2 linked regions of the Homo sapiens genome follow. The protein of the gene in region 1 purifies or fractionates together with the protein of each later gene. This does not show direct contact. Each region holds a gene or a part of one and is shown in the gene's direction. Other genes may lie near its edges. The genes, in order: XYLB and AGL.

What was found.
Region 2: the proteins of XYLB (region 1) and AGL fractionate together in Homo sapiens (co-fractionation; one large-scale study listed by BioGRID). This does not show direct contact.

The regions. Positions count from the first base shown.
Region 1 is NC_000003.12:38,345,010-38,348,925, forward strand, and holds the start of XYLB (xylulose kinase), read left to right. Parts: upstream 1-1,775; 5' UTR 1,776-1,859; coding exon 1,860-1,916; intron 1,917-1,923; exon of another isoform or gene 1,924-2,815; intron 2,816-3,537; exon of another isoform or gene 3,538-3,540; coding exon 3,541-3,623; intron 3,624-3,916. UniProt on the Homo sapiens protein: Phosphorylates D-xylulose to produce D-xylulose 5-phosphate, a molecule that may play an important role in the regulation of glucose metabolism and lipogenesis.
Region 2 is NC_000001.11:99,916,361-99,920,176, forward strand, and holds part of AGL (glycogen debranching enzyme), read left to right. Parts: intron 1-49; coding exon 50-137; intron 138-237; coding exon 238-371; intron 372-3,816. UniProt on the Homo sapiens protein: Multifunctional enzyme acting as 1,4-alpha-D-glucan:1,4-alpha-D-glucan 4-alpha-D-glycosyltransferase and amylo-1,6-glucosidase in glycogen degradation.

The DNA.
Region 1 (3,916 bases):
TGGAGTGGTGGAAATGTTCTGTTTTGATCTCAGTGTTTATATGGGTATATACATACATTTTTAAAAAGTCATTGGCCAGGCACGGTGACTCACGCCTGTAATCCCAGCACTTTGGGAGGCTGAGGCAGGTGGATCACATGAGGTCGGAGTTTGAGACCAGCCTGACCAACATGGTGAAACCCCATCTCTACTAAAAATACAAAATTAGAGCCATACGCAGTGGCTCACGCTTGTAATCCCAGCACTTTGAGAGGATGAGGCAGGCGGAACACCTGAGGTCGGGAGTTCAAGACCAGCCTAACAAACATGGAGAAACCTCGTCTCTACTAAAAATACAAAATTAGCTGGGCGTGGTGGCGGATGCCTGTAATCTCAGCTACTCGGGAGGCTGAGGCAGGAGAATCACTTGAACCCAGAAGGCAGAGGTTTCAATGAGCTGAAATCACGCCATTGCACTCCAGCCTGGGCAACAAGAGTGAAACTCCGTTTCAAAAAAAAAAAAAAATTAGCTGGGTGCGGTGGTGTGCGCCTGTAATCCCAGCTACATGGGAGGCTGAGGCAGAAGAATCAGTTGAACCAGGGAGGTGGAGGTTGCAGTGACCGGAGATCACGCCACTGCACTCCAGCCTGGGTGACAGGAGTGAAACTCTGTCAAAAAAAAAAAAAAAAGTCATCAAGCAGTTAAGATTAGATTAAAATGCAGTAATCTAATCTTAATTAGATTAGATACTTAGATACCTTTATTTAAAATTTTTTAAAAGTGGAGATAATAGTACCTACTTCCCAGCATCATTGTGACGATTAAATGTGCTCAGCAGGTTGCATAATTGTTTCTGATCTAGCTAGTATCCAGTATTTGTCTATTGTCACAGGTGGTGACTGCTGGAGGGGCTGAGTCCCCAATAAGCTGTGAATGTCTTGGAGGACAAGTATGTTGGCCCCTTCTTGTTCTAGCAGTGAAGAGGATCCCATGTAGACTCCAAGCAGCTCAAGTTCAGCAAGGGAGACAGACCATTGCAAGTGCATGAAAAGGGCACTGGTGGGCTGGGAAGTTCGTAGGAGGAGCCTCTCACATGCTGGGTTTGGGGAGGAATTCTGGAAAGCAGTTAGTCTTAGGGACGGGAAGGATGTAGCTGGTGGGACAGGCGCCCTCAGCTCCATGAATAAAAGGAGTGGGTCTGACTCTGGTTCTCATTCCCCTTTACCATGCCTGGCACACATTAGACCATCAATACCAATTGACTCCAGGAAGGAGTGTCTCCCCGTGGGGGCATCAGGAGCCGCTGAGTTTAAATACACAGGTGGGATGTGACACACTGGGAACCATTCAGATTTGCTGGATCTGGATAGGGCTTGTCAGGACTCAGTGCTTCCAACCCCAGGGCCCATTTCCCTGTGGCCCCTGAGTCACCACCATGGGTGGACAGCTGCTCCAGTGCCAAGATACAGCCACAGAGGACGGCAGGCCCAGGGCCTCCAGAAGGACAGGCAGGCTCCCTCTGAAAGACAAGCCGGCTTATAGCTGAAACCTCTGGCCCAGGCGTCCTCTAAGGGAAGCCAGGCGGTGTCAGGGCACGGCCCATGAAGACATAAGATGAAGATGGGGAGAACCAGAGGGGGTGCGCTTCGAAGGAAAGCGGGCTGCGTGGGGGCACCGTCGATTGCACAGGACGCGGTCCCGGCTCGCGTAGCCCCGCAGGCGGCGCCAGAGCGCAAGCCCGCCTCGTGACTCCGGTCCACAGTCCGGCCGGGCGGAGCTAGGGGCGGGCCCCTGCGTCTCTGGGCGCTGGAGCGCGGCGACTATCACGCCGCGTGGCGGACGGACGGACTGACGGACGCGCAGCCTTACCCGAAAGGCCATGGCGGAGCACGCCCCTCGCCGCTGCTGCCTGGGCTGGGACTTCAGCACGCAGCAGGTACAGTCGCCTGGCCGCAGGGCCACGGGGCCGCCTCCTCCGCTTCGGTGGGGGTAGGGGGCGGGCTGTCACCCGGACGCGGGAAAACATGGGCCCGGCCGCGGGCGCGCCTACCTCTCGGGCTTCCCGGGGCCCCCGCGCCCCTGCCCTGCGCGCGGCCGTGGGGCGCCGGTGCCCTCGCCCGGAGATGCCCTGCCAATGCCACCCGCTCGCAAGATGCGGCCTCGACCCCGCCTGGACCCAGCTACCCCAGGAAACTGCAGGCGCTCCTCGGCAGGACCCCCGGTGCCCAGAGGGGCCGGAGGACTCGGCGGGTTCCTGCGCTGTTCTGGGCACCCAGTGACGGGGATCCGAAGGAAGTCAGCTACTGTAAGGCAGGGGAACAGACAGGCGGGTAGCCCTGCGCACATGCACAACCAGTGACCTGGAAGCAGATTATAGCCCAAAACCTTTTTTTAAAAATTGAAATGGCCCAGGCCTGGTGGCTCTTGCCGGTAATCCCAGCACTTTGGGAGGCCGAGGCGAGTGGATCGCTTGAGCCCAGGAGTTCGAGACCAGCCTGGGCAATATGGAGAAACCCCGGTCTCTACCAGAAAATACAAAAATTAGCCGGGCATGGTGGAGCACACCTGTAGTCCCAGTTTTTCTGGAGGCTGAAGCGGATCGCTTGAGCCCAGGAGGTGGAGATTGCAGTGAGCTAAGATGGCGTCACCGGTCTCCAGCCTGGGCGACAGAACGGGACCCTGTCTCAAAAAAAAAAAAAGAAAAAAGTGAAATGCATAGTGTACAAGTGGACTTTACCCTGTGACCGCCCTTCGTTGACACCAGCTTGCCTGGTCTGTGCACCCAGGACTGCTGGCCAGAGGAGCAGTGTGCTGCTGCCAACGCCCTGCAGACAGGCAAGCAAATCAAAATTTGCCTTCAAAGAGGGCATGGGGTGACCGGGGGCACCTTTTCCTTTAAAGTACTTGGGAAATATACACAGTTGCAGTCAAACCCCTCTTCTCGAATGGGTCAAGGGAGGCAGGCCTCTGGCCAGTCCTTGGGGGAACGTCCTGTGGGACTCTGGATGACTCGAGTTGCCTTGCTGGACCTCAGTTTTCCCATCTGTCCAGGAAAGGAGTTATACTCCCAAGCTTGGAGATTGCTTCAGTGGGACATTAATGTCTCTGGACCACAATCATGGCCTGTGAGAATAGCCCATGGCCTTGCCTGGTCTCAGGCCTCTGCAGACATGGATCCCCAGAGATGCCTCCAAACCTTGCTTCCCATTCCTTCCTCTCTGGCACTTTCTCCCGCCTCCTTGTCAGGTGCACGAACCAACTCATCTGTGAACATCTTCCTCTAGAGGGTCTTGGCTTTGGCTATTTGGGGAACAAAGATTCCTTGAGACATGTGGGTGTTCCTACTTAGCCTCAGTTTCTTCATTTTACTAAATCTTTGAGTGTTACCCCAGATGAGTCCTCTGTTACCACGATTACGGTGAGGCAGCCCTGCCTTCAAGGAGGTCTCTAGGTTGAACTGCTCCTAGGGTGTGGGGCCTCATCTGGTGACGTTAGTACCCCCTGGACCAGTGTAGAAGCTGAGGAAAATTCTACACTTCCTTTTTTAAAATGCCTTTCAGGTAAAGGTTGTTGCTGTTGATGCAGAGTTGAATGTCTTCTATGAGGAAAGTGTGCATTTTGACAGAGATCTTCCAGAATTTGGGTATGTACTTGATGTGCATGTGTGTGTGATGGGGGTGTTGGTTTTGGGGTCCTCCCGCAAACTTTTGTATTCGCAGACCGCACTGTTGAGGCTTTGCCAAATACAGGAGTGGTGGTCTCGGCAGACCTTTCAAGCATCTTTTTTTCCTATACCTAGAGTGCCATCTCCCCCATTTCTTCCTAATTCCATTCATCCATTCATGAAGTAAGCATCAGTTGAGACCTACTTTGTGCCAGGTGCTAGGACCTGATGGCGAAACAAAAAGAGAAAGCTCTCCCAGAGCTTCCCACTGA
Region 2 (3,816 bases), on another chromosome or scaffold:
ATAATATCTGATCATCTTTTATTTAACTTAAATTTCAATCATTTTGCAGTGATATGGTTTACTGTGGAATTTATGACAATGCATTAGACAATGACAACTACAATCTTGCTAAAGGTTTCAATTATCACCAAGGACCTGTAAGAATTTCATTTATCTTCTGAGTTTCAGTTTAAATTATTTTTCAAGTAATTTTTAGGTATTTATGGTTTTTTTTGTCTTTTAAATAATCTTTTTTAGGAGTGGCTGTGGCCTATTGGGTATTTTCTTCGTGCAAAATTATATTTTTCCAGATTGATGGGCCCGGAGACTACTGCAAAGACTATAGTTTTGGTTAAAAATGTTCTTTCCCGACATTATGTTCATCTTGAGAGGTAAGTCATCAGGAGCATGTAATTTCCATAACTAGTGTTTAGTCAGTTTATTAGCTATTAGGTAAATTACAGTTTCTTAGAATTGATTTCTGTATGCCCTAGGTATCCCAATGAAAAGTGAAGCCTTTATTCTTTAACATGACAAATTCTGTTATATAATTTTCACTTTCTCTTATTTTGGGTTGTTATTTATTTTAAGTTGAGGTCTTGATATTGTGCGATTTATACATGTGGAATAGTCTTTGATTTTTAAAATTTCCCTGATGTTTTTGGATGTGGTTAGCACAGGATAAATATAAAAACTGAAGGTACTCAGCCTGGGCCTTTTGAGTTAATTGATTTAAAGATATATCAAGAAATAGTTTTCAGAAATGCTTTCATTATAGTTAAAATATCAGAACTGGTCTTTTGCCTGTTAGTTCAAAAAACATTTTTCACTTCCTTGTCCTAATTATTAGCAAATAGACAGTGTCAGAGTTACGTATCTTTATAAGAGTATAAATTCAGAGTGTATCTTAATTCCTCAAATTTTAGATTATACCTAAGTATATCTATATTCTATTCCTCAGATAATGAATAAACAGCACAAATTTTATCTCCTTTCTTACAAGCACATAAGGGACTTCTGCGTGTTTCATATTAATAGAGCCACTCCTGGTCTGTTTTGTTTGGTTGTCACCATGGTACAGATTTTACCATCCTTTTAAGCTATTTATGTCTTTGTATTTAAAGTGGCTTTCTTGTACATAGTAGCATGTAATCGGGCCTTGCTCTCGTGTAGCACAACAGTTTCTGCTTTTGGAATATTTAGACCATTTACACTTAAGGTCTGAAATTGTGAAATTTAAATGTTTGTTGTCTGTTTATTCTGTCTGTTCTTTGTTAGCTTTTTCCTCTTTTTGTGCTTCTTTTGCATTGAATATTTATTATTTCATTTTAATCTCCTTTGTTGGCTAATTAGATGTAATTCTTGTTTATTTAAAATGGCTGCTTTAGGTTTATAGTATATGTCTTTATAGTTTACCTTCCAGTGATATACCACTTCAAGTAAGGTATAAAGATCCTTAAAATAGTATAGTTTTATTTTTCCCCTCCCGGCCTGTGTGCTATCATCATCATCCATTTTGCTTTTACCTGTTATTACCCCCCACACTACATGGTTACTACATTTGTTTAGGCAGTCAGTTATGTTTTAATGATCTTTAAATAATATATTAAAAAGTCTAATTACTCTTATAGTTGCCATTTTCAGTGCTCTTCATATGTTTGTGATGTTCTGTATCTCCATCTTGTATCATTTTCCTTCTACCCGAAGGACTTTCTCCATCATGTCTTGTAGTGTTTGCCTCCTCATGATGAATTCTTTCAATTCTTATAAGTGTAAAACATCTGTGTTTTGCCTTTATTTTAAAGATATTTTCACTATGTATAGAATTCAAAGTTAAGCTTTTTTCTCTTTCATACTTTAAGGTGGTTACATTGTTTTGATAAGAAATCTGCATCATTTTTATGTCTAACCTACCATCACATCCATGCTGGTGTTTTTCATTTCAACGTTGTAGTTTTCATTTCTCAAAGTTTTATCTGGGCTGTTTTTATATCTTCCATGTCTCTGCTTAATGTTTTGAACATGTGGAATATGATTACAGTGACTCTTTTAATATCCTTGTCTGCTAATTCATTTCTGGGTTGCTTTTGCTTGTGATTGTTCTCTTTATTTTGGGTCATATCACCCTGCTTCTTTGCTTGGTAGTTTTTGTTTTTTGATTTTTGGAGCGACAGGGGTCTTGCTATCTTGCCCAGGCTGGTCTCGAACTCCTAGGCTCAAGCAGTCCCCCAACCTCGGCCTCCTGAAGTGCTGAGATTACAGGCATGAGCCACCACACCCAGCCATTTGCCTGGTTATTTTTTATTAGATACCAGATGTGAATTTTACCTTGTTGGGTGCTAGATTTTTGGTGTTTCTGTAAATGTTTTTGAGCTTTGTTTTGGAATGCAGTGAAATTACTTGGAAACAGTTTGATCCTTTCTGGTCTTGATTTTAAGCTTGTTAGACCTGACCAGAATAGCATTTGGTCTAGGAATAATTATTCTCCATTAGTGAATCAAGACCCATCTGTGTTCCCTACCCTGTATTTCGAAAATTATGACGTTTTCAAATCTGGCTGGTGGGAACAAGCAAGTGTTCCTGACGCTGTATGAGTGCCACATACTGCTTCTTCTCATCCTTTTGGATGGTTCTTTCCTTGTTCTTTGGTAGTTTCCTCTTGTGAATTTGCTGGTTGGTACACTACAGATACTTGAGTGGGACCCTCTGCATATCTTCAGAGTTCTCTCTTTGTACAGCTCCTTCCTCTCTAGTACTCTATCCTGCAAATTGTAGCTGCTTTGTAGTGTTCCTGGATTCTCAGTTCAACTCAAGGAAGTCTGCCAGGCTCCACCTGTGTTCCCCCTCTCTGTGCCAAATCCTGGAAACTCTCAAGGCAGTAAGGTATGGTAATCATAGGGTTTGCTTCATTTGTTTCTCATCCTTCAAGGATCGCTATTTGTTGCCTAATGTCTAATGTCTTAATGTCCAGTTCTTCAGTTGTATCAGACAGGAGGGAAATTCTGTCCATACTACTTCCTGTTTGTCACATATGGAAGTCCTTCCTTGCTTTCTGGCCCAGCAAGGTTTTCAACACTCATCTTTCACTTTCACTACCCCAGCCTGGAATTGGGCAATTCTCTAAGGATCCCTTGTTCTTTATAGTGAAAAATGTTATTTAGAAGCCAGATCTGAGCACATGGTGTATTTATTATTACTATGACCCCCAGTAGATAGGGCTAGGGAATATATAATAATACATAAACATAAGTAAATACATACACACTTATCTTCATCTCAATGTATCCTGTCTATGTGTGTTGAAAACCTGAGTTTACACCAGTTCCAAGCTATTTCTCAGTGTTTAATTCTATTTTTCTCCCTTTCTATATTTGTAATTCCCTTTTCCAACAATGAATAACCTACTTCCCACATTGGGCCATCACCACCACATAGAGTCTGCTCACCCAGCTTGGGCCTGCTACCCCACAGTAAGCCACCTCTATGTGTGGAGCCCTCCTGGCACCACTTGGATTCTAACTACCCACTCTGGACCACTCTCACCCTTGGTGGACTCCCTCTTCATACCTCTTGGACTCTAACATCCTGCTCCATACTACCTATTACCCTTTCCCCTCCATTTCTGGTCACCTACCTTGCTCTGTCCCACCTAATGACTTCAGGATGAATTTTTCAGGAAAGCAAGGGAAAGGGGACTTCCTTATATTTGTATGGATACATTCCATGTCCTAGTGTCCAAGTGTAATTATGGGCAGCATATTCATGGTTTTGTAACCTCATTTTGTTTTTTAATTTTGGTATCTGTTAGTTTGCTAGAGCTGCAGTAACAGAGCACTA